3 separate regions of the Homo sapiens genome follow, and all the other regions are linked to region 1. Evidence: fine-mapped expression QTL. A gene starts in region 1. Each other region holds a variant in brackets. All regions are shown on one strand. Distances are between the middles of the regions. Region 1 holds the start of CHN1 (chimerin 1). Region 2 overlaps CHN1 (chimerin 1). Region 3 has its middle 33 kb from the start of CHRNA1.

Region 1 (10,036 bases):
GAAAGCAGATATATCTACAGTACATAAACAGATACATAGTATATCTCTGGTATTAAATTTTCATGGGGAGAACAATTAGAAAACAGGCCTAAAAGGCCGGGAGAGGGAGGATTTTTTAAAAGGTTGAGAAAAAGTAATCTAAAAGAAACTAAAATCTTTATTGACAAATATGTCAAATTTGTATAATTATACATATCACTGTCTTCTATGTTCAAAAATTAGGCTGCTTATAGGATGGTTACCTGCAGAGACAGATGTGACTCAAAAGACTGCAGTGCCAACATTCCTCTACAGTGTACACAGATGGTGACTATCAGAGTTATAACAACTATAATTATTTTATTGTTCTTACATAGTACCAGCTCTCCACACATTAAAAGACAAACTTTAAAGCTAAAATATTAGAACCACAGGCATGCATCACCACACCTGGCTAATTTTTTTTTTTTTTTTTTTTTGAGATGGAGTCTCACTCTGTTGCCCAGGCTAGAGTGCAGTGGTGTGATCTCAGCTCACTGCAACCTCTACCTCCTGGGGTTCAAGCGATTCTCCTGCTTCAGCCTCCAGAGTAGCTGGGACTACAAGCATGTGCCACCATGCCAGGCTAATTTTTGTATTTTTAGTAGAGACATGGTTTTGCTATGTTAACCATGGTCTTGAACTCCCGACCTCAAGTGATCATCCACCTTAGCCTCTCAAAGTACTGAGATTACAGGCATGATCCACCACACCTGGCCTGATTTTTTTTGTTTGTTTGTTTTGAGACAAAATCTCGCTCTGTCTCCCAGGCTGGAGTGCAGTGACACAATCTCAGCTCACTGTAACCTCTACCTCCTGGGTTCATGGGATTCTCCTGTGTCACCCTCCCAAGTAGCTGGGACTACAGACACCTGCCACCACACTTGGCTAATATTTGTATTTTTAGTAAAGGTGGGGATTCACCATGTTGGCCAGGCTGGTCTCGAACTCCTGACCTCAAATGATCCACCCACCTCGGCCTCCCAAAATGCTGGTATTACAGGCATGAACCACTGCACCCAGGCTTTATTATTATTATTATTTTCTGTAGAGATGGTATCTCCCTGTGTTGTTCAGGCTGGTCTCAAACTCCTGAGCTCAAGTGATCCTCCAGCCTAGGCCCCCCAAAGTGCCAGGAGGCATGGGCCACCCATTACAGATGTGAGCCACCATGCCCAGCTGGGTTTTCTTATTTTTACTCTTTTAGAGACAGGGTCTTGCTGTGTTGTCCAGACTGGAGTGCAGTGGCTATTCACAGGCACAATCATAGTGCAACTACAGTCTTGAACTTCTGAACTCAAGCAGTTCTCTTGCCTCAACCTCCTGAGTAGCAGGGACTACAGGCACATTGCCACCATGTCTGACTAAAATATTAAGTTTTGACACCAGTACAAGAAGGAACATGGACAAAAATTTAAATAAGGATGATGATTTAAATGACAGCTGAAAAGAATATATTCTGAAAAAGGCAGATGAGCTCACACCACTGGGCCAGCCTCTTGTATTCTTTGGACAACTGAAAAATAAAAATGTCAGCAGAGAGTATAGTCAAGTGGGAACTTCCTATAAAATTAGCTTTCAGTCAAATATGAAAATCTTCAATTGACTTGTCTTTTAAAAAATACATTTTAATTTCAGGACATTCCTATGGGAAATCAGAAAATTTCCTAACTACATCACAAAGAATATGCCATTGCTATTTAATTGCTCCAAAAGATGTCCATAGGTAGGTGTGTCAGGTTAGTGACAGATGCTGAATAAAGTGAGATAATGAAAAGGTTTCCATGGCAGAAGGGTCTGAGGAAAGATGGTACAAAATTATAGCAAAATCATAAGCATTATTAGAAGTGATCTATGGTAGTAAGATGGTGACTAAATGGTAACAAGAATAAGGGGCAAGGAGGGTGAGCAGCAACGCCAGAGGTGACTCTACCCAGATAGAGGACCATTATTCAAGGTTCAGCCAGCCCAGCCGACGGTAACTGAGTTCCCAATCGCATCAGTTGGTCTGGGCTATAAACCACAGCCCCATTAAGCTATAAATGACAGAGATTCCTGCCAAGGCAAGAGCTGGCAGAATGCTTATTCACCCAGCTCTGCCAACTAAGGCTCTATTGGTGTGGCCAATCAGGACATTTTGTCAGGTACACCAGCCACAAATTCCCATATTCAAGGATCTGAGACTTTCCTTTTATCCCAGTAATTACTAGAAAACATGTGCTCTCTACTAAGGAAGTTCTCACAAAGCCTATACGGAATTAGTTAATAGTTAAGTGCCACTCACTATACGGAATTAGGTAATTAGTGAATTAGGTGCATTCGCTATAGTTCTAGAAAAGACTCTGAAGTGCCACTAGAGGACCATGTCTCTTGTACGCTGTGACAGATGTTTGCTGAAAAAATGAGCAAGGTGAGCGAGCAGAGTCTGTAATACATTTGGATAATTTTTGAAATTGGGGGATTTAAAAACTATATCGAAGCTGATAATGAGATGTGAGTTCATTTGAAAGGAGAAGAAAAACGGGTGCAAATTCTTAAGCTTTCAAAAATGCACATTTTCAATTCCCAAATGAGACTGTAAAATCTTTCAAGATTGGGGTCTGGTTCTTCTATCCCAAAATAAAACTAATATGCATTAAAAATATGTTAAGCAGCAAAGGTGATTAACAGTGAGGATGAGAGATAAAACAGTCTTAACTATTCAGCTTAATTTAACAAGTATTCGAGTTCCTATAATATACTTAACAGGTGAAAAAAATTAAATGTATGCAAATACAAAATCAGGTAATGTTAGAGGCTCCACTTTTTAAAACTAAGTCACCAACTCCCTATAAAAAGAACATTTCTTAAATTTATAAAAAGCCTGAATGGAAAGAAAATGTAAAACACAAAGCAAATAACTAGTCTAGACTCTACTGCTGGACTGCACTAACTAATCAACCAAGATACAAAAGATAGGGCCCTGGCAGTCGTTACTCTGGGGAGCCTCAGGTATAAACTCTGCTGAGCTCTGACAAATCCTGTTGATCTGGTTAGGTCCCTGCCTCTAACTCTTTTCACTACCATCTCACAGAACTTTATTGCTCCATTGCTCTTCTGTTCTAAGTTGGTCATTAAGAGTAAATATGAAGGGACATGAGGCACTTCTGACTAAGACCAACTAGTTAAAGGTAGTAAAATCTAAAATAAAATCCATTTCTTCTAACCCTTAGGTACATCTCTCAACATACACAAAAAGCTATTTTGTATTGGGCGAGTTTGACCCAATCTCCTAGCATTTATCTTGAATACAACAGTTCTCAAACTTGAGTGAGCATAAGAATCACAAAGGGAGTCACTTTAAAATCCCCTTCCCCCATGTCTTTGGGCAAAAGAATCTACATTTTTAATAGACATCCCAGATGACTGATGAGTGGTGTACAACCACTTTTAAAAACAGCTGCTGCTCTATCACTACTTAACAAATAGCCTCTGCACTCAAGAGTGCTTTGTTTTATAACACAGAAACGTTCACACTGTAACAAACTGGATTTTGGGAAGTGAATTCTATTTTCCCATAAGTAGACTTTAAAATTTTAAAGATACATTATTCATTTTGAAGGCTGGGAGTGATTTCTTATACTTTCTTCTATAGGCCACATTCCATGCTTTTCCCTTCCTCATCTTCACCACAGTGGTTAAAGATTTAGAATTTAGAAATCCTTTTAAAAGAGCATTTTTCACCCCAATTTATCTTTTTTATTCGTCAGGAATGCGAGTATTTGAAAAGTTGACTTGTAAACCTTACTTCTGAAACCACACCTTGAAAATGCCAAATATCTCTTTAGGAAAGAAAATGTTTGTACCAAAAAGGTCCACATTTAAGGAAAATGCTGCTATTAAATAATGCTTAGATACAAGGTACTGAGAAACAGCGAGAATTTTATTATTTTTCAGAAAAAGAAGACACTTTTTTAAAGTACCTATGGAGGATCATCACCAAGTAAGAAATGGCACTTCTAGTAATGCACTTGGGCACAGTAAACACAGTCCCAGACTGAAGCCTGGTGAAGTGAATTCTAGGCTCAGTTTTGCCACAAAAGAGCCATGTGACTTTGGGAAACAACCTCTCTGGGTCTAAGTTTAATTTATAAAATAAGATAGTTAAATAAAAGTAACACTTTGATTCTAGCAGCTTAATTCACTGGGAAGTATTTACCTCAAAAAGCATTTGAGGTATGTAACACCTCTAACGTGTTTGATCAAATGACATAATTAAAACTGAACTGGAAACTTGATATTGTGAATAACTTACTTAGGCTGTTCTCGTAGCTATCAATTACATATCATTGTACTTTGCTTCTTCAAAAAAGCTGAATACTTTGAACGTCTAATGTTCACATATTGAGTTTTCTTAAAGTCAGGTACGTATGTACCATAGTCGTTTTGTAAAAGGAAAGAATGTATCTTTTCAGTCCTTTTTCCCAACCCATTGTCATTGCAGACTGAGAAAAAAACAGCTTGAAGTCTTAACCACCAAAAGCAACAGTGCTGCAGTAATTACACCACAAAAATAACATTTCATTCTTAATGAATACTCAGTCTCCTGAGATTACAGTTATCTTCTGGTAACCAACTTTATTCTGTCTGCTCTCATTCGTTAGTGCAAACATTTTCAATTTTAACCCATATTCAGTTCACAAATCATACTTATTTCCAACGGAATATACTGAGTCCAAAAAAAAAATTCCCCAATAGTCCAACAGGAAGCAACACATGCATTTGGCAATTCCAAGGAGGCTGGGGACTCACAGATACCTCGTTCAAAATAAATAAACTTTCCAAGGATTTATTTACCGACGGGAAAGGCAGGTTTGAAAACAACCAGTTAACTTCACTCCCAAGTTGGCATCTTAGAGAATCTTTGTGCGTTTGCAAAACACCCAGGACCTCTGAGCCTCCCAGCCGAGAATTGGCCAGGGGAGCACACGCCCATCGGCCCTGCCGGGAGAGGAAACAATGGGAGAGGCGCGAGGGAGCAAGCCGGCGCCCCGGGCGCCCCAACTCTGCGGCCCCGGCCCGCCCCGACCCCACGCGCCGCGCCCCCTCCCCGGGCGCCCAGGCCCCCCAGGCCCCCGCCCCCGAGCCCCGGGACGCGGCCCACCTGCGGCGGCGCGGGGAGACGGCTGCACTTACCAAACAGGGTCAGGGCCATTGTAAAGGCGCTCGCCGCCGCCCGCGAGTCCAGGCGCTCCTCCCAGGCGGGCTAGGGATCACCTCATCAGCCCGCCGCACCCACACCTCGGAGAGAGTGGGGTGCCCGATGGGGCGTGCTGGGGGCGCCGGCGCCCGGGGAGGCTGCAGGCCGGGACGCGGGGGACCGCTGCAAGAAAAAGTTATTCACGCGTTATTGTCGGGCGCACCGGGCCCAGGGAGCCCCGCTAGCTCTCCGCGAGCCGGCACTTGTCGCTGCCATCAGGCGCGGAGCGTGCGCGCGGGAGGAGGTACCTGCGAGGCAGGAGGCTTGGCCGCGGCGCAGTGGCTGGCGGAGAGGCGGCGCCGCACTGGCGGCGGCGGCGGCGGCGACGGGGAGAGCAGCAGCAGCCTCGCACAGCCCCCGGCGGGGCGCGCTCACTCCGCATCCCGCGGCCTCGCAGACGCCATCTTGCGATAGCGTCTCCCACGAGCTCGGCCGCGCCGCTGCCTCCCGCCTCTCCCTCGGGCTTCCCGGTCGAGTGCGTTCCCATGGCAACGGGCGCGCGCGGGGGTAAGAGGGTGCGCCCTCATTCCCGCGGCTGCGAGGAGCCACCAGCGCCCCCCTGGAGGCGGCCGCCCGGAGCGGGATGGAGCGGGGCCGGTGTGCGTTTTAGCTGAAAGCCCAGGTTTTTTCTTGAATGGAATTTGAGGAGGCGCAGAGAGGAGAAAAACGCTGTTACTCGAAAGAGGAAGAGTCACAGGAGGATGCTGAGTGAACGCAGCGCCCAGGCAGGGTCATCTGGGGACCTGGTGCGTGTGAGAACATATTTCTTCTCCTGGCGCCCTCCAGGCTCACTGTGGCTGGAGCCGGTGACCTGAAGCTGCAGGGCTCTGGTAGGAACAGAGGCACTGAAAGCTGCATTCCTCTCCGTTTGGACTTAGGAGCTGCTAGTAGTTCTGATGAAATTGACACACATTAGGAAAAGGAGTCGCTTAAAAAGCATCTGAGATTACCTAAGATAATTTGTTAAAAGACCAATGCTTACACCTGATTTTCTTCCCTTTACATTATACCTCTTTGATATTGTCTCAAGGAAAAAAAAATCAGCATGTGTCACTGACTGGCACTTATTTGCCACAAAAGATTGTTCCCCTGAGCTTCTTGTATTTATCTGATAATCACTGGCAACGTCCTCCTTTCTGTGATGTTGTCTCCTCACCTCTGTCTCTGCCATGAGGAGCCATACAACGCCTTGAGATTGTCAGCCAAAAGATGTTCTTGAAAAGCTGGGTTATATGTTTTTCGTCGTTGTCGTTTAATGTATTCAAAAAGTCATTCTTCTCTAGTTGCTATATGTGTTCCCTGTTTAAGAAATTCCTTCTTTTTTCTTGTTTCTCTGCTTAGGGATTTGATACTATTTTGGTATCTGATCATGTAGATCTTCTCTTTGGTTCTCCTTTCTTTCTACAGGCGTCTTTCCTCTTAGTTCCTCAGGTTCCCTAGTGTCTTCTCTCCCATTTTCAAATAATTCTTTAAGAATATTATAGAAATATCTTGTATTTAATGTATCTTAGAGATCGAATCCTGATAAAGTGGGAGATTACTACAGTACTTCCAATGGAACCACAGTTAATTCACCATCATTATTTCAAAGCAGACTTAAGCATCAGAAGAAAAGCAGGTTGGAAGGAGGAGCCAAGCCTTTTGTTTCAAGTCAGTTAACTCAGGAAGAAAGAAATATTAAAATGATTCAACATGAATGGGCAAGTGTTTAAGATGCTATATGTTTGGAATTTTGTGATGTAAAATGGCTCTCTTTAGCCACTAATCAAAATACATCTTTAAAATCCCCAGAATTTAAAATCTTTCATGAAAATGGACTCTTGATTTTGAACAACCTTTCTGCTCATAAAAAATTACAAACACACAGCTCATGAAAATAAATGAGAAACTCAAGAAAGCTTTGTGGGATAGATTTTATAACCATATAAAGATTGCTGCTAATCTGCTCTGCAGCCAAATAAATCAGAAACCGAAGACTCCATTTACTGTTTCAACTAGTGGTCTTCAACATTTTTGGACCAAATTTCCTTTTGAGGCTCTAATGAAAATACTGTCCCTCCTCTTAGAAAAGTGCTTGCATACATACACACATTCACCGGAAATTTTTCACATAATTTCAAGGGGATTATGGGCTATTCAGGGACCTTAGGTGAGCCCCTGGAAGTGTTTTTTGTAATCTCAGAAAGTTTTTGCCTTTATAATTTAAAGGAAAATATTTTCCTTCAGAATAGAACCATTGAATTTTGAATAGGAAAAGACCAAAACTCCCATGATTTATAGGTAAAAAAATTGAGTTCCCCGTAAAAAGATTTTCCCAAATGTGTTCACCTATTTAGTAGCAGAACCAATGGGAAAATCTTAGATTTCTGGTGTTCTCACCGACCACCTTCCCTACCCACATCCCGCATCAATTTAGAGGTTGCATGGTTTGAATTTCAAAAGAAAAATCTGTTTAGTATTAGAAGCAAAATAACGAGAGTATTTTGTCCTTAGCCATTCTGCATAGAGTTTGGGAAGTTGCATTTTGTCTCAAAGAGTTTTTATTAACATGCCCTTCTACTCAGAACTATGTGTCCCATCATGCTAAAAGAGAAACAATGCCTTTCTCTCCTCTTTGTTAAGCTCTGTTAGAGCATCAAGGTTTTGGTGCTGCAGCTCAGCTTGCTAGTAGCTCTCTCCATCCCTTGAGGGGTTGTCCTGGGAGTGAGACAGAGAGAAAGGAGCTGCCCTGCACTCAGATTTACCCTCCCATCATACAGCCGGCCTTTGGTTACTAGACCAGCTTTCCACTCACTAGTTTGGCCAAATACAACTGAATCCTAGTGAAATACCCTGCTTAAACTCAAGTGAAGATCCTTTTCCTCTCCCCTTTCTACTCGCACACCCACGTACACACACACACACACAGCTGTTTTTAAGGTACAATTTGGAACAAAACAGTGTGAATGTTGCTATGTTTCCCTTTAAAGCATCCTGCTTTCCACGAGCCATTCCTTTCAACTGACTTCCAAATGGTTTGATGCTCTAACAAAATGCTCTCTATACTTGATCAAAGTGCCTGTCTTGGAAATAGTATTGGCTTTTAAAATAGCGTATTTTTTTCAATGAGCTATTCCTATTCTATTGCATGTGCTTCTTTTCTCACTTAGCTGAAAATAAAGCCACAGCCTTTCAGCTACAGAGTCAATGCAAGGAAGGGCGTTAACTGCTTGGAGGTGATTATTACGGGTGGTGACTTAGATTGTTTATAAAAGAAGGGCAAAGAATGAATTGACTTCTCAAAATATTTATGTTTTCATTCAATGATTTCATTTTGTGCTTAACATGCAAGTGCTTAGAAGAGCCAGATTTGTTTATTCGTTACTAACTAGCTGTCAGATTTTTAGACAAATGTTTTACTGTTTCTAGTTCTTATCTTCCTCCTTTGTAAAATGAAAGGATGGTACTAAGGTATCTCTAATGTCCCTTTTAGGTTTATCTGTCATTGTGTGATATTTTAAAATCTTTAAATTAACTGGTTTATGGATAAAACAGAGGACATTTTTATTTGAATCTTCAATATATTTAAAGTGCTGTTATATCTAAAGTTCATAAATACCTAATGTAATAAAGAAGTCATATTTTGTCAAACCAGTGGTACTGCTATTTCTTCTGCAATGTGTTGTACTAATAATGTTATATTAATCATGTAGAAAGCAACCTTTTTCTGGTTTAACAGGATTAAAATTAAAAGTGTGCACTGAACAACCCATTTCAAATTTACTAAAACAATTTCTCATTTTTATTTAAGTTTTGTTGACTAAACAGAACCTAGACAACCCTTTAAAATGGTTTTCCTACATTTTAAACTAATGACTTATCACAAGTGTTTTGAATTTCTTTTTGTTACCCATTTAGCTTCATTCCCATTGGTAAACATTGATTTGTTCCTCAGTTTTCAATGAAGCAGAAATTAATGAGGCGGTTTCTGCCTCACAATAACAAGTTAAAATTATAGTACTTTGTCATGTCAACACAGCTTTAAACACTAGGAATACCAGTGCTATTAGCACAGTTCCCAAAATAGTGCAGAAGTTTGCTAGTGAAGAGAAAAATGTTACACAGTATACTTCTGCTAAAGTTAAAATTAAGAAAGTTAAAATTATTTAAATATTCACAATATGTGACATTCTCTCTATCCCATATTTATGTTACTAGTTACAGTGTTTGTTTCCACTGTGTGAATTTGTTTAAAGTGGATTTGTTTTTGTTTTGAGACAGGGTCTCACTCTGTCACCCAGGCTGGAATGCAGTGGCACAATCTCAGCTCCCTGCAGCCTTGAGTTCGTGGGCTCTAGCAATCCTCCTACCCCAGCCTCTGGAGTAGCTGGAACCACAGGTGCATGCCACCACACTCGGCTAATTTTTGTATTTTTAGTAGAGACAGGGTTTGCCATGTTGCCCAGGCTGGTCTGGAACTCCTGAGCTCAAGCAATCCACTCCTCTCAGCCTCCCCAAAGTGCTGTGATTGCAGGCATGAGCCACTGTATCCAGCTATTTGGTCTGTTTGGTTTTTTGTTTTTTTTTTTTTAGACGGAGTTTCACTGTGTCACCCAGGCTGGAGTGCAGTAATCTCAGAGCTGACTGCAATCTCTGCCTCCCAGGTTCAAGTGATTCTCCTGCCTCAGCCTCCTGAGTAGCTGGGATTACAGGCATGAGCCACCACACCTGGTTAACTTTTTGTATTTTTTAGTAGAAATTGGTTTCACCATGTTGACCAGGCTGGTCTTGAACTCCTGA
Region 2 (10,036 bases), 170 kb before region 1:
TTTCTCTTTTCTTTTCTAAATAGAGATGGAGTCTTGCCACGTGCCTCAGGCTAGTCTCAAACCCCAGGGCTCAAACTGTCCTCCTGCCTCAGCCTTCCAGAGTGCTGGAATTACAGGCGTGAGCCACCATGCCCAGTCTACAATATACACCTTTAACTTACAGTCTACCTCCAAATAGTATACCACTTTATGTAATGCCCAAGAATCCTATACATGAATATACTTCCACTTCCCCCATCCTCTACTCTACATTACTGTTGTCATACATTTTGCTTGTATAAACTACATAATATATTACCATTTTTGCCTTAAAGAGTCAACTATCTTTTAAAGATACTAAGTCAGGAAAAATATCTTTTAAAGTTACCCATGCTTACTATTACTTCTAGTGTTCTTTATTCCTTTGTGTAGTTCTAAATTTCCACCTGGTATCATTTTCTTTCTTAAAAAGTTACTGTAATATTCTTGTAGTACCAGTCTCCTAGGGATGAATTCACTCAGCTTTTGTTTGTTTAAAAAAATAAATATTTTCTCTTCATCTCTGAAAGATATATTTGCTAAATATAGGATTCAAGGTTAATAGATTTCTTTTCCTTCAGTCCTTTGAAGATGTCACTCCATTGTCTTGCATAGTTTTTGATGAGAATTTTGCTGCCATTCTTTATTCATTTTTATGTAATGTGCATCCCCCCAACTGCTTTTAAAAAAAACTTTGTAAGATGTGTGAGTACCAGTGAAAAAGGAAAATAATTTGTTTCCTCAAAGTTGACATATCTGTCCTAACTAAAATAATCCTCGAAGATATTAACAGAGAAGATAGTAGTATAAAAATAATTTATATTCTTTTAAACAAATGTGCATTGTATTCTTGAGTGTGAGTATGCACATTTAAGATTCTATAAAACCACAAAACTATAAACACATTATGAAGCTGAAATGTGAAAATAAAACTTAAGAGAAACCAAACGTATGTATAATTTCTAGATCTGAGAGACATCCTCTGTACATTACGTGTGGGATGAACAACCTCAATTCTTAGGCTGAGGCAAAGTATGGATTCTCCTTGACTTATGATGGGGTTACATGTCAATAAACCCACCATAAGTTGAAAATATCATAAGTTGAGAGTGGGGTTTCTACTTTTGATATTTTCAATTTATGATGAATTTATCCAGATGTAATCCAATCCTAAATCCAGGACTGTACTGAATGAATATTGCTTTCAGACCATCATAAGGTCAAAAATCATAAGCTGAGCCATTGTAAGCCAGGGGCCTTCGGTATCACTTTACAGTGAAAACTGTTCTTTCCCCAAATTTTCTCACTCTCTCTGGCTGCTTTTACAATTTTCTCCTTAACACTGGTTTTCAGCAATTTATGATATGCCTTGATGTTGCTTTCACCATATTTTTTTCTGTTTAGTGTTTAGTGTTCACTGCATTTTTGGATCTGTGACTTTTCATCAAATTTATACAATTTTTGGTCACTATAGCTTTAAATAATTGCTCTGTCTCCTGGTTTCCCATCACTGTTCCTTCTGTGACCCAAATTACACTTATGTTAAGACTGCTTGCTATTGTCCCACTGGTCACTGATGTTGTGTTCATTTTTTTTTTTTTTTTAATTCTCTGTTCTTCATCTTGGATATTTTGTATTGTATTTTCTGGTTTACCAATCTTTTCTTCTGTGGTATCTAATATGCTGTTAATATAATCCAGTGTATTTTTCATTTCAGATATACTTTTCACCTCTAGAGATTCAATTTGGATTTTTAAAGACAGCTTCCATTTCTTTCCTCACTACAACCTTTAGTCTACTGTTAATTTTGGTCACAGTACTAAGATGATACCCTCTTGAAGAGTCTTAACCAATGCTCCATGTGTTGTGACTTCTTTCTGTTTCTACTAGTGGGCAGAATGAGTCTTCAGTGAGTTTCAGCCATTGTTTAGCCTATTGCTTTCTGGTGGTTTCCCAATAGTTTCTTCCCACATATATGCAGATAAGTCATCAGTAAAAGACTCAAGAAGGCTCCTCGGCAGATCTCCAGAATGCCTTTTGTGTGCAGCTCTGTCTCCTCAGGCAGTCTCTGCCCCATACATTTGAGCTGCTTTGCACCTCCCCCACGACCCCACCCTAATCTCTTTGTCCTTCACTGGGGTAGACCACAAGACTCTGCTTGGACTCCCCCTCCATGTGCTGTGGCCTGGAAACTGCCTCCAAGCAGTAAGAGTGATCTTAAGAATCATTTTGTTTGTGTTCCTTCTTTCAGTTGTCACAGTTCTATACTACCTATTGATCAATGTCTGGCTGTGGTTTTTATATACTTTTTCTGGTTTGCTAGTTGTTTAAGATGGGAAGGTAAATGTAGTTCTTCCATCATGACCAAAAGTAGAAATTTAGTTTATATTATTGGTTCTACTGATTCGTTCATGTGAACGCCAACCAGTGACTTTAATAGGCTTCAGTTTCTACACATGTAAAATAAGATTAACTTAATCAGTAATTTTCAACCCCCTTTATACAGACTGAACTGCTTCAGGATTCTTTTGTCATCCATGTTTCATGAGCACATCTCACCCAGCAAAGTGTTACATTAACACTGTCATATTCAGTAGGCTGTTCACTAAGATCTTGCAATAGGTGATTTCATTTGACATTTAATCTTGTAGAGGGCACTGCTTATTTTTCAGTACACAGAACAAGTTCTTATTTTTCATAAAAGCTCCCAATCCATGTGAATCGTATAGAGCTGACCTCTTCCCCAGCTCCAGGGGAAGACCTGGATCTAAGCCAGTACATTCCCTTCTCCTGACTGGAGCTACTGGTGCAGAGATGAGCATATGATATAATTGGTCAATGACTGCCATGCCCAGAACCTTTTTTCAAACAGTCTGTCTTTGAGGCTGACTAGAATCTGGGAGGATACAGAGCTGAAGACTTTGACAGTCATCTTGTCACCAGAGGGAGCCTAAAAATGAAGAAAGAGTTGGGAAACAGGGTTCTGGTGGCATTTTAAGCCCCTAAGTCAAAGGATACCTTCAATTAATGCTGGACTTTTTCTACTATGTGACACAACAAATTCCCTTTTTTCTTAGTCCAGTGTGGGCTGGGTTTTCTGACACTTGCAGTAAAAGTCTCTCAACTGTTCCATCAAATAGTAAATATATTCATGGTAACAGATTAAGAAAAACACACTGAAGTAATACAATTGCGGAGTAATGAGCTGTAACAGCAACCATCAAAGCAAATTAGCACACCCCCTAGAGATGGACTTCTCTTTAAGAACAAGGGCATGTGTACCAGGCAGAGCACAAGCAGAGATCAGGGTTGTGTCACATGCAAGAGGTGAAGCTCCAAACAAAGGTAGTTCTAAAAAGAGAAACAGAGAATATGATATTTTAGGCCTGATTTGGGCAAATCCATTCACATGGATAGCCAAAACGTCACCTCTAATACAAAAGACTGGAGGATATCACCTAATGTGACAACAAGCCTCTGACTACCATGACCTAAAAATAGATGTGTTCTTTTAATTTTTAAGTCTGGATAATACCTTACAAAACACGCCAGTTCTATTTTTGCTCCCCAAAGAACATAAAAATATAGAAAATAAGCAGCTGATGATATGGTGGTTCTTCAACTGTTGGGCTACTGGCCTTTTCCTTTATAGTTTTCCTATTTTGTAACCAGAAGAATCTCAAGATAATTTAAGAAGAGGGATTAGAAAACTGGAAAAAAAAATCTATTAGTATGTTGCTTGTCAAAAAAATAATTTACAGTGGTTTTCAGCTACCAGAAGTTTTTGTGTAGTAAAAATATTTAAAAAGAAAAACCATTGCTTGTCACGTTTTCATTTATTTTTTAACCTATATTCCACTTCCTTTGGTGTATATACACATCTCTTTTTCTACTTTCTATCCTTTGGGCTATTTGATGGAGGCAACAATATTTTTGTGTCATGCACTATTACATAACAAATGATGAACACCAACTAATGATACTAAGTTTACTGAGATATGGAGTACTTGACAACATAGACAATAATTGAAGCAAGATGATAAGACATGTACGTATTCTTTAGGTACATGCTTTAACCGTCCTACTAACAGTCATGGTAAACCTCACTCTTTTTTTTTTCTTTTTTGAGATGGAGTTTGCTCTTGTTGCCCAGGCTGGAGTGCAATGGCACGATCTTGGCTCATTGCAACCTCCGCCTCCCAGGTTTAAGCAATTCTTCTGCCTCAGCCTCCCAAGTAGCTGGGATTACAGGCATGCACCATCACGCCCGGCTAATTTTGTATTTTTAGTAGAGACAAGGTTTCTCCATGTTGGTCAGGCTGGTCTTGAACTCCTGACCTCAGGTGATCCACCCACCTCGGCCTCCCAAAGTGCTGGGATTACAGGAATGAGCCACTGCGCCCAGCCAAACCTCACTCTTAATAAGACTTTGTCCTATAGGGAATGTTGACACAGTGGGTCACAAAAAAGATGAAGTATGATAGCACATTTTGTCAGTTAAACAAGGCTTGAAACACAGAGACATGAAATATTACATATGGTATTTCTCCTATTAACTTACAAAATAAGCAAAAGAGAATTAAGACCCAATCCTCAGTTAAATCTGGAAGGGGTGAGTGAATATAAGATAGAAGAGATTACGAGAAGGGGCTTTAGAGTACCAACATGTCTCAAACGGGGGAAAAACCAACTCCTGAAGGTTGGACTGTTGTA[T/G]GAACATGTAAACTGAAATATTAAGAATTTTACAGGCCAGGTGCAGTGGTTCATGCCTGTAATCCCAGCACTTTGGGAGGCTGAGGTGGGCAGATCACCTGAGGTCAGGAGTTCAAGACCAGCCTGACCAACATGGCGAAACCCCATCTCTATTAAAAACACAAAAATGTGGTGTGTGTTTGGTGGTGGGCACCTGTAATCCCAGCTACTAGGGAGGCTGAGACAGGAGAATAGCTTGAACCCAGGAGGCGGAAGTTGCAGTGAGCTGAGATTGTGCCACTGCACTCCAGCCTCGGCGACAGAGTGAGACTCTGTCTTAAAAAAAAAAAAAAATTTAGAAGAAGTGACAATTATTTCATTTTTAATTGATAAATAAAAATTATATTTACTGTGTACAACATGTTTTGAAATGCAAATACATTGTGAAATGGCTAAATTGAGCTAATTAATGTAAGCATTACCTCACATATTTTTTGTAGTGAGAACACTTAAAATCTACTCTCAGAGAGATTTTATTCTCAATGTATTCTTATACATTGTTATTAACTGTAAGAGGTGACTTTTAAAAATTGCGTGTTTTTCCTATGCGTTTATATCCTTAAAGAAAGTATGGTATATATATACAATAGAATATTTATTCAGCCTTAATAAAGGAAATCCTGCCGTATATGACACCATGAGATGAACCTGGAGGACATGATGTTAAGTGAAATAAGTCAGTCACAGAAGGACAAATATTGCATGATTCCACTTATATGAGGTATCTATAATAATCAAACTCAGAATAGAAGAGTGGCTGCTGTTCAATGCATATAAAGTTTCAGTTATAATAGATTGAGTATCTTCTAGAAACTTGTGAGCAACACGATGCCTTTACTTAACAATACTGTGTTGTGCACTTAAAGATTTTTTTTTTTTTTTTTGACATAGGGTCTTGCTCTATCGTCCAGGCCATATTGCAGTGGCACAATCACAGCTCACAGCAGCCTCGATTTCCTGGGCCCCAGTGATCCTCTCACCTCAGCCTTTTGAGTAGCTAGGACTACAGGCATGTGCCACCACGCCCAGCTAAGTTTTGTATTTTTGATAGAAACAGAGTTTTGCCATGTTGCCTAAGCTGGTCTCAAACTCCTAGGCTCAAGTGATCTGCCTATCTCAGCCTCTCAAAGTGCTGGGATTATAGGCATAAGCCACTGCACCTGGCCTTACTTAAATATTTAAGAGGGTAGATCTCATGTGACATGTTCTTATCACACACAAAAAAAAATCTCTCTCCAAAGTTTAAACTACCCTCTGTCGAATTTTACTCTGCATACTCACTTCTGACTGTCATTCTGTTTCAGGCAGAGATGTCATTTGTATTTGTATATGAAATATTGAACCATGAGGAATATGGCATTATTATACATATGTGGCACATAAAATTAAAGGTATTTTGCCAGTGTTTATGCATAAAACCATTCTTTTTTTTTTTTTTTTTTTTTTTTTGAGATGGGGTCCTGCTCTGTCTCCCAGGCTGGAGTGCAGTGGTGTGTTCACAGCTCACTGCAACCTCTATCTCCTGGCTCAAGTGATCTCACCTCAGCCTCCTAAGTAGCTGAAACCACAGGTGCACAATATCATACCCAGCTAATGTTTTAAATTTTTTGTAAAGACAAGGTCTCTCTATGTTGCCCAGGCTGGTCTTAAACTCCTGGGCTCAAGCAATCCTCCTGACTTGGCCTCCCAAAGTGTAGGGATTACAGGCATGAGCCACTGTGCCTGGCCCCAAACCCTTCCTATGACCTTCTCATCATTCTCATTATATTGACATTTGCTTTCTTTTCAGTCAGTTTGCATATATCCAGCAGTCAAGGACCGTACATTACATATTACTGTGTCTCCTCCCATGTCTAACAGAGTGGTCTGCACACAACAGCTGCTTGATAAATACTTGAGGGATGAGCAAGGAGGAAACGGAGCTAGGAAAGCCTGGAGAGTTTTATTTTAGGTTAGAGAATACTGTGGGCAAGATGTTTCGACACTGTTAAGGGATTTTTCTTTGAAAAGATTGAGTTAGTATGTTCAACAGCAATTTTTCATACATATATTGAAAGAGCCAATCTTTTCAGGGGCCCACATGGACATGGAACAAGAGGCTAGAAAGGAATGAGGAAGACAAAACATGTCTTCCTCATTTAAAACATTTAAAAAAGATATAGTAGAAAGCTTGAATGGAAGAGACAAAAAACATACTGATAAGTAATTTGTGTCAGCGAGGCAGTATAATACAGAGATGCCAAATTTGGAACTTGGGGAATAAAGACAGATTATAAAACATCTCCAGAATAAAGGGCCATGGTCTGTGAGAATAATATGGGTTTCTCTGAAGTATAGCAATTTAAATTCTCTAGTCCCATAAGATAGCTACAAAGAAGTATATGCAACTATGTGCAAACCAACAAGAACTTTGTGAAATGTTTCTTTTCGGATTATTAGTGGCAGGTAGTAACCTTTCTGATAACCTTAAGGATCTGAATGACTTGTACTCGGGGTGTCATACCAGTTCCCCAGCCAGCATGACAAACCATAAGGCCAGGCAGGGTGAGGTTGAGAGGGCCACCGTGCTGAGGGGCAGTGCACAGGTTCTGTGGTCCTCCTCACCAGCAGCATTGGCAGAAGTGGAAAGCAGAGCAGTGGCTGTCATTTTTGGCTTCTGCAGCATCAGATATGTACTATAATAGGCAGCAACAGAAATACAATGTTTACAGGGACTTTAAAGATGATTCTGACCAATTTCCTAGTTTCTCTTCATCAGTCCTCTACATGTCCGATTGCCTTAGGCAGACAGAACCTATGCTACATACTGATCTGCGCTATTTTTGTCTTCTCTTGCAAGTGGCCCACATTGAGAACTGGGGAAAGAGTGTGTGTGTGTGCATGTGTACAACAGAAATACATATAATTCCACTTAATTTCTTTCTTGGAGAAATTCCAAGTAAGAAATTATTTAAAATTATTTAAATTTCCAAGTAAAATTATTTAAAGGAATAATTCACATTATTCCTTTAAAATGTTTATGTTGGACACTCCTTGTTCATATCCACAGAAGAGGCAATGATGAGAGACATTATTGCAGAAGCATAATGAAGCATTCTAGATTGTCATTTCCCTTTTGTAATATTGCATTTACCTTCATTTACAATACCATTAATTCAAAACACTATTCAAATTCCTGAGCATTTAAAATATGTACACAGATTCTCTAGTCAATATCAGATAACATGATGGTATCTTGGGTTTTATTTCATTTTGAAAACTCACATAAATCTAATTAAAAGAAAACATTGTAACAATACAGATCTTAAGACCAATAGAAGACTCTATTTTTGTGTTAATTTCCTGCTGTCATGAGAAGAGGTTTTCAAGTAACAACAACCAAAGGTCCCCCGCATGTCACACTGTGTACTCATTTAGTCATTTATCAAATGCTTCTTGAGCATCTGCTAGTTACAGGCATTTTACTAGACATCGGGAAAGGGCAAGGAAGAATGGAGGGAGGCAAGGTGGTGGTGTGAGGGTTGGTGGGGATAATATGAAAGAGGTGATAGACACTGTTTCTGAATACGACATTTCACTGCTGTTAATATAAAGTTTTAAATATTCTTTCATATATAGTTAATTTTAGTTCCTTTTCAAATCAACGTATTGAAAATTTGTCTCCATAGGAACTTCAATAAAATTTTAATGAAAAATGGAATACTTGTAATAAATCTAATGGTTCACAATACACTATAATTAAGTCCGAGAATTTTAGAGCTGTAAGAGAACCCTTAGACCATGTGGTTTAAAACTTCACAGTTTATATTAAAATTATTATTTGTTCATTCATTTTGTATTAATTTTATTATAAATGTGAACCAAATGAAGACCAAAGGGGGCTTGGATTTGCCCACGTCCTCGGGAGGAAAGGAAAGACTACCCTCAGCAAGAGTGTCGGCCACTGCCGCCCTTCAGTTCACCAGACAGCACAGTGTCCAGTCTGTTGGCTAGGATTGCTGGGTTCAGTATGATCTCTTTTTCCTAGTAGGTCTTGAATCAGTAATTTTATTAACTATTATAAGGTTCATGTTACAGTGTTATTTTAATTGCAATATCAATTCACATTTCAGGATTCACTGTTTGCCTGTTATCTTGGCAACACTAAATCTATTAATACAATATCTTATATCTTTCATTTACATGCAGACTGCAAGTACCTGAAATGAAAATCAACAACTAATTCAAGACTACCTTAAAAAATTAAACTCATATTTTTAGTATCTACTCCCTATAATTCTTAATGTTGTTTTCTTTTAATTACTTAATTTGCCTAAGTAGCCTAGCTTCTGTCGTTATTATAATATTGTATCTGCTCTTGATTTTATTTTATAGAGCTATCTGAATTAAGCAACAAACCAGATGAAACATTTAACAGTTTAATTTGAAAAGAGTAAAATAAATATAGAGGATTTCACTGCATTCTGTAGTGCATGAAAAATGTAGCTTTTATTATTTATTTATTTATTTATTTATTTTTGAGACGGAGTTTTGCTGTTGTTGCCCAGGCTGGAGTTCAGTGATGTGATCTCGGCTCACTGCAACCTCTGCCTCCTGGGTTCAAGCGATTGTCCTGCCTCAGCCTCCAGAGGAGCTGGGACTACAGTCACGTGCCACCACACCCGGCTAATTTTGTATTTTTAGTAGAGACAGGGTTTCCCCATATTGGCTAAGATGTTCTCAATCTCCTGACCTTTCGATCTGCCCACCTCGGCCTCCCAAAGTGCTGGGATTACAGGCATGAGCCACTGTGCCTGGCCAAATGTAGCTATTCTTATGCAACATCTAACTCTGCCTGACAACTAGGCACAGTCCCCACGATCATGCTAAGGTTTTCAATCACATCATAATCTCTGCAACTGGACAGGAATAAGAGGATTCAGATGAACCCTTAAGTATAAATAAATGTCAGTATAGATTCAGAAAAAAAAAAAAACCCACTTAGGGGTATTTGTAGTAACAAAAATAGTGGCTACCATGTATCTACATGTACTGGGAACTCAATTTTTCCGATGTAGAGAGAGATTAAGCAATTGACCCAAGGTGGTGCATATAATAAGCAAGCTCCTGAGGGCAAAGGCTGGATCTTATTTATCATTTTACCCAGAAAGCCTCAGAATGCATGGCACAATCATTGCTGGAAGGGTGCCTGAGTTTTATTTTTAATGTTAGAGTTTGTTTTGTTCTCTCTCTTTCTCTGTGTGTGTGTGTGTGTGTTGTATGTTGT
Region 3 (10,036 bases), 270 kb before region 1:
ATGACAGTGTCATGGTGAGAACTGCCTGAGCTGCTGATGTTGACAGTGATGATTCCCTCCACAAGCTTCTGTGAACTCAGAGGGTTCTGTTTCCTTCTTCAAATTCATTGAAATGAAGAAGTCATTTGCAAATTGAAAAAAAAGGTTATATTTCTTTTTTATTAATCAATTTAGTATTGTTGGAAACTTACTATTTACTCATCTGTACATGAATCTGAATGTGAAGTCTATTTGACTAACTGTATTTTAAATTGCTCACTGCAAAGTAACTTTACGTTTGTTTTTAAAAATGGCTTTCACTAGTAATCATTATGTCAGGGGCTTTCGAACCAGAGCGACTCCATTTTGAGTGAGGGCTAGGAAAATGAGGCTGAGATTGGCTGGGCTGCATTCCCAGAAAATCAGGCATTCCTGGCCTCTGGATGTTTACAGTAAAGGGAACAGATTAATAATGTTTACTAAAACAGACCCAGACTTGGGAGTGTCCAGATATCCCGATATCTGGAGAACAAAGGCATTCTTAATTTTGCCTTAAAGATAATAATATTGATTCTTACAAAAGGTAGTAATTACGAAAATTAATCCTTTATCACAAACCCTCGTAGCAGAGCACATCTCCCCAAGATCTATTTTTATCCTATATATATAGCAGCACTGTACATAGGGTGCATGCGTTCCTCCTCTTACTTTCGGGAAGGCCCTACTCTGTCTAAGGAGTAGCTGTCCTTTCACCATTTTACTTTCTTAATAAACTTGCTTTTACTTTGCACTGCGGACTTGCTCTGAATTCTTTGTTGCTCGAGATCCAAGAACTCTCTCTTGAGGTCTGGATCCGGACCTCTGTGCTGTAACAATTACACAATATATGTGTTTAAATGTATATCATCATGTTGTATACCTTAAATATATACAATCGTTGTCAATTAAATGTTCTAAAATCAAAAAGTCTTCACATATATGAAACAATTAAAAAGTAAATACTTATTTTTCTTAAGATACAGATCTTTATTTTTTTGGAAGAAAATAAAAATCCCAAAGCAGATAATCTTATTTTAGTTATAGAAAATAATCTTATTTTAGTTATAGAAAATAATTTAAATATATTTTGGTATTCGATGGTAAAAATATTGATATTTACTTAGTTGAATTAAAAAGTGAATATCTTTCTAGTAACTTCTTATCTTTCTTGGTCAACTGAGGTTATTATTATTTTTTTTCTGAAAATATGTCAGGTTCATACAACTGAGGTTATTAAGAAAAATTATTCAGTGTTCCTGTGTAGCAGCTAAATTCATTATTTAATGCATTTTAAAGAAGCCTATTGCTTAAAAAATGCATAAAAAGCAATAGACTTCTTTAAAATGCATGGGTTGCAAAGGGCCCCAATATGAAAGTTCAGATTGAGCTAAATTGAAGATAATGTATTTGAATGTCTTATTATTTGGAAGTTATTATGATGGAATTGGTGGAAATGAAGGAAAATGTTGTCCTGGTGTTAACCTTTGTGGGAGGAAGCCTTGAGAACCATCCTCCCCCGCAGCAACAGGTGGGTGTTCCTGGAAAAGGCTGGTTTGTTGGTGGTGGTGGTGGTGTGTGTGTGCGTGCGTGTGTGTGTTTTGAGATGGAGTTTCGCTCTTGTTACCCAGGCTGGAATGCAATGGCGCCATCTCGGCTCACTGCAACCTCCACCTCTTGGGTTCAAGCGATTCTCCTGCCTCAGCCTCCGAAAGTAGCTGGAATTACAGGCGCCTGCCACCACACCCGGCTAATTTTTGTATTTTTAGTAGAGACAGGGTTTCACCATGTTAGCCAGGCCGGTCTCGAACTCCTGACCTCAGGTTATCCACCTGCCTTGGCCTCCCAAAGTGCTAGGATTACAGGTGTGAGGCACCGCGCCCGGCCAGGGCTGGTCTTGTGTAGAGAGATCAGAGTGGTTCGGAAGCTTGACAGGAACAGGGATTTCTCCTTTCCTGGTGTTGTAATGACCTGAAAATCTGTCTTGTTCTTCAGTCTACCTTGTTCTCCACCCAAGGGTGTCGGGCATTTCCCAGCTTCACTGGCCTCCCGGTCTGTGCCTGCTGCTAGACTCCATCCGGGTTCCACTCACAGTTCTCCTCCCAGGGCTTTTCCCAACCACCCTGCCTCCTGCCTCATTATCCAAGGTGCCACAACCTATTTTACAGATTTCCTTGTTTATTTCCTCTCTGCCCTCTAATGCCATTTAAAAAATTTTATCATTTCTACTTCAGTTTATTATCTATTATGTAAAATAAAATATTTCCTGATTTTGATTTATCGTTATATCCCAAGGACCAAGAATGGCGCCGGGTACGGAGAACACTCAGCATCCTTCCATTTGTGGAAGGAATAAATATTTGTGTATCTATGTAGATCTGTTTTCCCACTTGCTTTGTGATCTGTGTATTTAAAGAGGGGGCAGCTTCTTCACAAGGCATTCTTTCTGGAAACAGAAATGCAATTCTTCTTAAGGAAAAGTGGATCATTAAGATTTCTGAACTAGTTTTGCAACTATATAGAGAAATGTTGGAGTAAAAGTTAATTCCAATGTTAAAATTCTATTCTGTAATTATCATAAAAACATAGACTTTTAAGAGCGTTATTTCTGGATCACACAGTTCCACCAGCACTCTCCCTAGTAGACAGCCTCAGAGGGGCTCAGAGCAGTCGGTGATATGCCGGGGACACCCGAGTCCCAGCCAGGAAGTGCCCAGGGAGGAATGAACCAGACCTATGGGAAGGAACAAGTGAGTCCTGCCAATGCAACCCCTGTCCTCCCTTTAAAAAAAAATGACAATTAAGCTTAATGAAGGTATTTGCAATTGAACCATGGATCTAAAAAGGTAAAAGTGGGGGAAAGTTAAGAGTTTCTAATTATAAGCATCATCTTCCTGAAACTCTCACTTTTACCCTTAATTCAGAAAAGACACGTGGCTCTTAACCTCCTATGTACTTGTGTTGCAGGTGGTGTCTTTGGTGGCTGTTCACCCTTCCACAGTAAACATGCTTGGGAAGCAACTTTGCCAAAAGCCTTCGGACAGTCCAGCGTCAACACCGCAAGCCAAGTGGTAAGGCCCGCGGGGACAGAACCGTCGGACCCTGGTGGCGAATCTGGGATGGATGAATTCGTTGCTGTTGCGGCGGGCGGTGTTGGCAGGAGCGCTAGATTTGCTCGGGTTGGAGTGTGAGATGTTCCCTTCCGCCGAAGGAGCCCATGCAGACAGGGCTAGATGTACCTTCTGCAGCTTCTGCAGCGACTTGAGGCGCGTCGCTGCTAGAGGGTCCTGGTGCCCTCGGCGTGCGTGAGGTGCTGTGTGTCCCTCCCCACCCCCCGTACAATCCTCCCCGTAACTGGGCAGTGGAATCGGTGGGCACTGGAAGGACCCGACGCAGGTGATGGGATGCAGCGCTTCCAGGTGGTGACCCCGGCTGGACGTGCGTGGGTGCGAACTGCCACCCGGGCTGGGGCCAGCTTGCTGCGCCGCTGCCTCCGCAAGCCCTCCCAGCCCGGAGCTGAGTCTGACGAGGATTTCTTACGCGTTCAAGCGAGTGTGGAGCGGCGAGGCAGTGCACTTGCCCCATAGCTCCCGCGCTGGGAAACCCGGAGGGGAGGGGCTGTGGAGGGCGGGAGCCCCGGGCAGTAGGTCTGTGCTTCTTCCTTGGTCCCATTACACGGGAAGGGCAAGGTGACGCCACTCAGCCACGCAGGCCTCGCATTGGTGCCTTCCCTTCCCTAGCCAGGACGCGGCTATTAAACGCTGCTTTTAGCCGATTGTATTTCCTGTCTTTGAATCCGTTTTCTTTCTCCTCTCTGGTTGGTTGGTTCTAGCTCTAAGCCCATCAAAGACTTTAAGGATCCTACACAGAGTGCTGCAGGCTCCCTTTGTCAGAATTGGGGCCCCTAGGAGCTGAGTGCGGCAGGTTTCGCCTGTTCCTGGAGCTCGTAGTCAGGGTCGCTAGTGCACTGCCACTCTGAGGACTGGACGGAGTTCCAGACCTGCCTCCGGGGACCTCCTGCGTGAGGGCGGAGGCCCTTTCATGACCGTGAGATGCTCCGGGCCTTCCTGGTCAGCATGAGCTGCAGCCTCCACGCTGGGGCCTCCTGCCAAGTCCCGGGCTTTGGTGACTTAAGTGCCTTTTGCAGTCTCACCACCCAGGGAAAATTTATAGCGGTGTGGATTGAATTTTTGTTTTAAGTCTGATTGTGTTCTTTAATCTTGCTAAGGGAATCGCTAAGGGTAGCCATTAAATTATTTTGTGTCGTTTAATTTGATTTTCCCATAGGTACCCAATAGGACAGCTTAGGATGAGAGCACTCTTTAAAAACAAACAACTGGCTGGGCGCGGTGGCTCACGCCTGTAGTCCCAGCACTTTGGGAGGCCAAGGCGGGTGGATCGCCCGAGATCAGGAGTTCCAGACCAGCCTGGAACAACATATAGTGAAACCCCGTCTCTACTAAAAAATACAAAAATTAGCTGGGCTTGGTGGCGCATGCCTGTAGTCCCAGCTACTTGGGACACTGAGGCAGGAGAATCGCTTGAACCCGGGAGGTGGAGGTTGCAGTAAGCCAAGATAGTGCCACTCTACTCCAGCCTGGGCAACAGAGCGAGATTCCGTCTCTCAAAAAAAAAAAAAAAAAAAAAAAAAACAACAACAACAATAAAACCCTTTTAGATACAAAAGTCCAAATTTTTAGAAGTATACCTATTTCAATTGTGACTCAAAACCAACAAGCCTTTTCATGGCTTAAAACCAAGAAGCCTTTTATCACTTAACCATGGGCTCAAGAAGTGCCTCCAAGAGAGGGTGCAAAAGCACACTGTCCGCCTTGGCATCCAAATTGCTCCGAATATCCTAAGAACGGCCAGACCTTTTTAAAAACAAGGCAATGAAGTTGAGACAATTAAGACAAACTCCCCTAAGAGCTGGCACAGTGGGACAAAGAGATACTTTGGTTCTGGACTCCTAGCCAGTTGGCTAGCCGCCTGAAGCAAGCCTGACAACGTGCGACTTCTGCTGGCAAAGACCACAGAGAATATCCTCACTGGTTCCCGAGCTAAGCTCTCAAGACATAAAACAAGATGAAGGCCAAATCTTATGATTTTCCTCCTTATGACAAACTACACAAAAGACAGAGACAAGGAAAACAAGGACCATTCCTGGGAGGCTGTGATCTATAACCAATGGGTACTCAGAACCAAATTCACAAGAGTCACAATTTGAAAAATTAATTCTTATAAATGTTTTCTCCTACCAATCTGAATTGGAAAGGAAAAGACGACGAACAATGTTTACCTCCCTTTCTCGAATGGCCACTACAGACAGAGATCTAAGAGCTGACTGGGTGAGATTTCCTACTTTCTACCATCTTTTGTCAGTCTTCCCAGTCCCATCTCCAAGCTGCAGAGCTAGTGGGCATCCCTGCCTTTTAGGGTCCCTCCCTTGTCACCAGAAACTGTAGGGGAGGCAGAACTGCACCTCCATCCCCTTGGGGTCCTGGCTGGACTCAAGAATTAAATTGATATAAGATAGATCAACAGAAGAAAAACATACAAATTCACTTAATACAAGTTTTATGTGGCACAGGAGCCCTCATACGGAAATGAAATCCCAAAGAAGCCGTTAGAATCTGTTACTTATGTACTGAATTGGACAAAGCATAGTAAGTTGTGAAAATGAGGAAAGACAAAGGGACTTGGGC[G/T]AGGGAGCTAATTGGGTAGACATGTGTTCGGGAAGATGGTATAACAAGGTTTGTTTGTAAAGAATTTCTCCAGCCTCAGTTTTCCGTCCTTGATGATAGGAAGGTTGCGTCTGGCAGCAGAATCTTTGTCTGGGGGGAGCTGCTGTGCAAACCACCCCCTACCGAATTTCTCCTCTCCCGCTTTCTTATTGCAGGTAGTACTCCGTTCACGCCCAGCTGTCCTGTAGAATGGCAGCCTAAATGTGAACAAAAGCTATACCCCCTTCCTTTGATGCCTTTAGTCCAACTAAAAGAGGCTACAAGTTTCCAAATGAACTTTGCATTACAAACATGAAGATGTGAAAGTGAACAGAGGGAAGATGAGGGCAGGCCAACCCCAAGGGCCAAGGCTGCTGCTTATCTTCTCCTGAAGCCCCTTCCTCTCCTGACCTCTATGGAGAAGCCCCCCTAAAGTTCCTTTCTCTACCCCCAGGGCTAGGTTACAGCCACCTCCTAGGTAGACAGTGGGAGACTACAGAACCACAGGCCCCTCCAAATACCCTTGGCCTTGACAGGACTGCGACTGCCTGCCCACTGTCACTCCACCTGAAGTCGGGGATCACCCCCGTCTTCCCTCTGGGTTCCATGCCCTGCCCTGTTCCCGTTCTTGCCGCATCAGCACTGTTCCTTAGTTGACAAAAACCTCCCTATGCTTCTGGACACCTCCTGCCCCCAGTTAAGCCAGGATAAGCTCTGCCCAACTCTGGCCTGAAGTGTCTCTCCCCATCCTGCAGCCTCTCGTGAAAATGTCTATTACTCCCCAGACCGCACTCAGCACAAGCACGAACCTTCCCGTTTATTCCCACAAGTGCTGTGCCTGCTGGTGGAAGCATTTCTCTCCCTTTCTCAGACAGTTTAGGGCAGAACCATCCTTGCACAATCTCCTTCTAGTCTCCATTTTGGTTGTATCTTACAAAATCATAGCTCAGCTTCTTTTTTATTTAACATTAAAGCGGAAGAGTAAGTCTGGTGTCACTTTACACATCCTCGGGGCAGGGAGAGTTGTTGGGTCCCCTTCTGTCACTAGGAGCATGGAATCCCCAGAAAGGTGACCTGCTATCAAACCTGGACAAAATTACCTTGAGGAAAAAGATAAAATAGACTTAATTTTCCAGACAGATAAGGATAAAAATTTTTCCAACTGGCAACAAGATTACCAATGAACCCTTCTCTCAGAAACTATGTAAGGAAGACAAATTAGAGAAACAAATTTGCTACTCGTCTGTCCAAATATATGTTGCACTCTGTACAAACCTCACCATGGAAGAAATCAAGTGTGTGAAAGCCTGCAGCGCCAGCCAATCTGAGACAGGAGGGCCCTGGGGCCTGGACATATCTCAGCTCTAATTTTTAAAGAAAACATGTAGGTTTTTTTTTTTCTGATCAATAAGCTCTGGAAGTTTTTTCTGATATAACTTTTCCCCCTTTAACAGTTTTATTGAGATATAATTCACGTACCATACATTTTAAAATATACAACTCAATGGTTTTTAGCATCCATCACAAAATCAACTTCAGAACATTTTCACCCCCACCCTTCACATTTCTGTATCCTTTAGCTATCACCAACAACATTCCCAAGCCTAGATAACCAATAGTCTCCTTGCCACTTTGATATATTTGCCTATTCTGGACATCCTACATAAAGGGAATTACACAATATGTGGCCTTTCGTGTCTGCCTTTTTTCACTTAGGATAATATTTTCAGAGTTCAGCCATGTTGTAGCATGGATCAACACTTCATTCGTTTTCATGGCTGAATAATATTTCACTGTACAGTGTTATGAGTTGAATTTTGTCCCCAAGAAATTCATATGTTGATGTCCTAAACTCCAGCACCTCAAAATGTGGCCTTATGTGATGACCGGATCTTTCAAGATAATCATGCTAAAATGAGGTAAGTAGGGCAGGTCCTAATCCAGTAACTGGTGTCCTTATAGAGAGGGAAAATTTCAACACAGTGGTGCATACAGGGAGACAGCTGTTCGAACACAAAGACAGAGATTTATAAGCCAAAGAAAGAGGGCTGGAACAGAGGAACCAACCACCGTGACGCCTTGACCTCACCTCAGACTTCCAGCCTCCAGGGCTGTGAGACAACACATTTCTGTTGTTTAGGTTGTTGTACACTTTGTTACAGCAGCCCTAGCAAACTAGTACATATGGGTACACCACATTTTGTTTCTCTGTCTGTCACTTAGACTTTTGGCTCATTTCCATTTTTTTGGCTATTACGAGTAATGCTGCTCTGAGCATCCACACACAGGTGTTTGTTTTCATTTCTCCTGGGTATGTACATAGGAGTGGAATGGCCAGGTCAAATGGTAACTCTGTTGAACTGTTTGTGGACTGCCAAACTCTTTTCCAGTGTGGCACTGCCCTTTCACATTCCCTGCAGGAACATATGAGGGTTCTCATTTCTCCACATTCTTGTTGACACTTGTTACGATCCTTCTTTTTTACTGTAGCCATCTTAGTGGGCGACGGTGGTGTCTCACTGTGGTTTTGATTTGTATTTCCCTGAAATGATATTGAGCATCTTTTCATGTGCTTATTGGCTGTTTGTACATTCTTTGGAGATTAAATTTTTTAATCCAAAGGTTCTGGGTAATCCAGGCCCTGTGCATCTCTGCAGACACATGTTGGCTATGCCACCCTTCCCCTCACTCTGATTCCAGTTATCTGACTTTCTTTGGTCTTTGGAGGCAAGTTCTGTACATTTTACTATATCAGGACCCTTATACTCTCAAGTCACTTGAACAAAGACAATTCTCTTCCTCATCTTTGCCCTGTTAACCTCAACTCATTTTTCAGAGTTCAGTTCAAGCATCACTGCCTCAGGTAAGCCTCCTTCGGCTACCCCAGCCAAGGGTCCATCAACTGGCTGAGCTCACAGAGAGCCCCATATCAGGTAAATGTGTTCAGTCTAGAAAATGGCCTAATCGCCCCACCCAAATAAGTCCTCAGTTCCACTAGGTACAGCTTTATCACCAAATTTTAATCTTTTCACTAGGCTAGGTAATCATACAACTTTAGAACTGAGTTAACTCTTTCAAGTAGGAAGATGAATATCCCTACCTTTCACTTAGATTTTCTGAACTAAAATAAAAATTACACTATAATTTATCTTGGTATGAATTGGTTATTTTCTGAAGTTTCATTTGGGCATTTAACAATCAAACCCATATCTGAGCTAGAATCCTTTGAAGTATCCAGATTAGGGTTGGGGCACTTTAAAGTTTGAGAAAGAAATAACGTTTAAGAGTGACCAGGCACAGTGGCTTATGCCTGTAATCCCGGCACTTTGGGAGGCTGAGGCGGGTAGATCACCTGAGGTCGGGAGTTCAATACCAGCCTGACCAGCATGGGGAAACCCCGTCTCTACTAAAAATACAAAGTTAGCCGGGTGTGGTGGCACATGCCTGTAACCCCTGCTACTTGGGAGGCTGAGGCAGGAGAATCGTTTGAACCCAGGAGGTGGAGGTTGCAGTGAGCTGAGATCATGCTGTTGCACTCTAGCCTGAGCAACAAGAGCGAAACTCCGTCTCAAAAAAAAAGAAAGAAAAGAAAAAGAAATAAAGTTTAAGAATATCAAGAATAAAGTAAGGCATTATGTTCATTTTCTTAGAAAGCCACTAAGCCAATATAAGAGAAGCACCATCTGCTGTGAATTGAATCACCTCTCTAGACCCAAGGCAGCCTTCCATGTCAAACACATGCCCAGCTACAAATGACAAAGGGTGCCATGTCTTCAGGGAAAAAAAGATTTAGACCAAGACCAAGAAAGCTTTTTTTTTGAGACGGATTCTCACTCTGTCACCAGGCTGGAGTGCAGTGGCGTGATCTTGGCTCACTGCAACCTTCACCTCCCAGGTTCAAGTGATTCTCCTGCCCCAGCCTCCCAAGTAGCTGGGACTACAGGTGCGCACCGTCATGCCCAGCTAATTTTTGTATTTTTAGTAGAGCGGGGTTTCATCATGTTGGCCAGGATGGTCTTGATCTGTTGACCTCGTGACCCGTCTGCCTCAGCCTCCCAAAGTGCTAGGATTACAGGCATGAGCCACTGTCCCCGGCCTAGACCAAGAAACCTTAAGTGTTTCCCACTAAAGGGAGAACAGAAGCCCAACCAATTTTATGATTACATTTGGTTTGCTTTCCTTGTCATCCCTCCATTTTGTGCCAGGGGAGCTGTATGGTTTCTTTGCTCCATCAGCTTGGCAACACCCTAAAAACTTCTGGGACAAATAAGTCACTTGACACTGGAAAAGAAAAGGGC

What was found. PIP is the estimated chance that this variant, and not a neighbour inherited with it, causes the effect. A credible set is the group of variants that fine-mapping cannot tell apart.
Region 2: its variant is the best candidate, but not a certain one, in a credible set for the expression of CHN1 in whole blood (INTERVAL, PIP 0.80).
Region 3: its variant is the best candidate, but not a certain one, in a credible set for the expression of CHN1 in whole blood (INTERVAL, PIP 0.57).

Annotation. Positions count from the first base shown.
Region 1 is chr2:174,999,701-175,009,736 of GRCh38, forward strand. CHN1 (chimerin 1) reads right to left here and starts at 5,681. Exons shown (of 13, transcript NM_001822.7): 1 at 5,194-5,681. The coding sequence starts at 5,212. RefSeq lists an enhancer at 4,851-5,397 and a silencer at 5,382-5,441.
Region 2 is chr2:174,833,968-174,844,003 of GRCh38, forward strand. The region is part of intron 7 of CHN1 (chimerin 1); the gene reads right to left. Among named protein-coding and RNA genes, the nearest start is that of CHRNA1, 75 kb to the left of the region's middle. The variant T/G (reference allele first, on the strand shown) is at 4,732.
Region 3 is chr2:174,726,739-174,736,774 of GRCh38, forward strand. No RefSeq gene overlaps it. Among named protein-coding and RNA genes, the nearest start is that of CHRNA1, 33 kb to the right of the region's middle. RefSeq lists an enhancer at 3,085-3,824 and a silencer at 3,423-3,717. The variant G/T (reference allele first, on the strand shown) is at 5,721.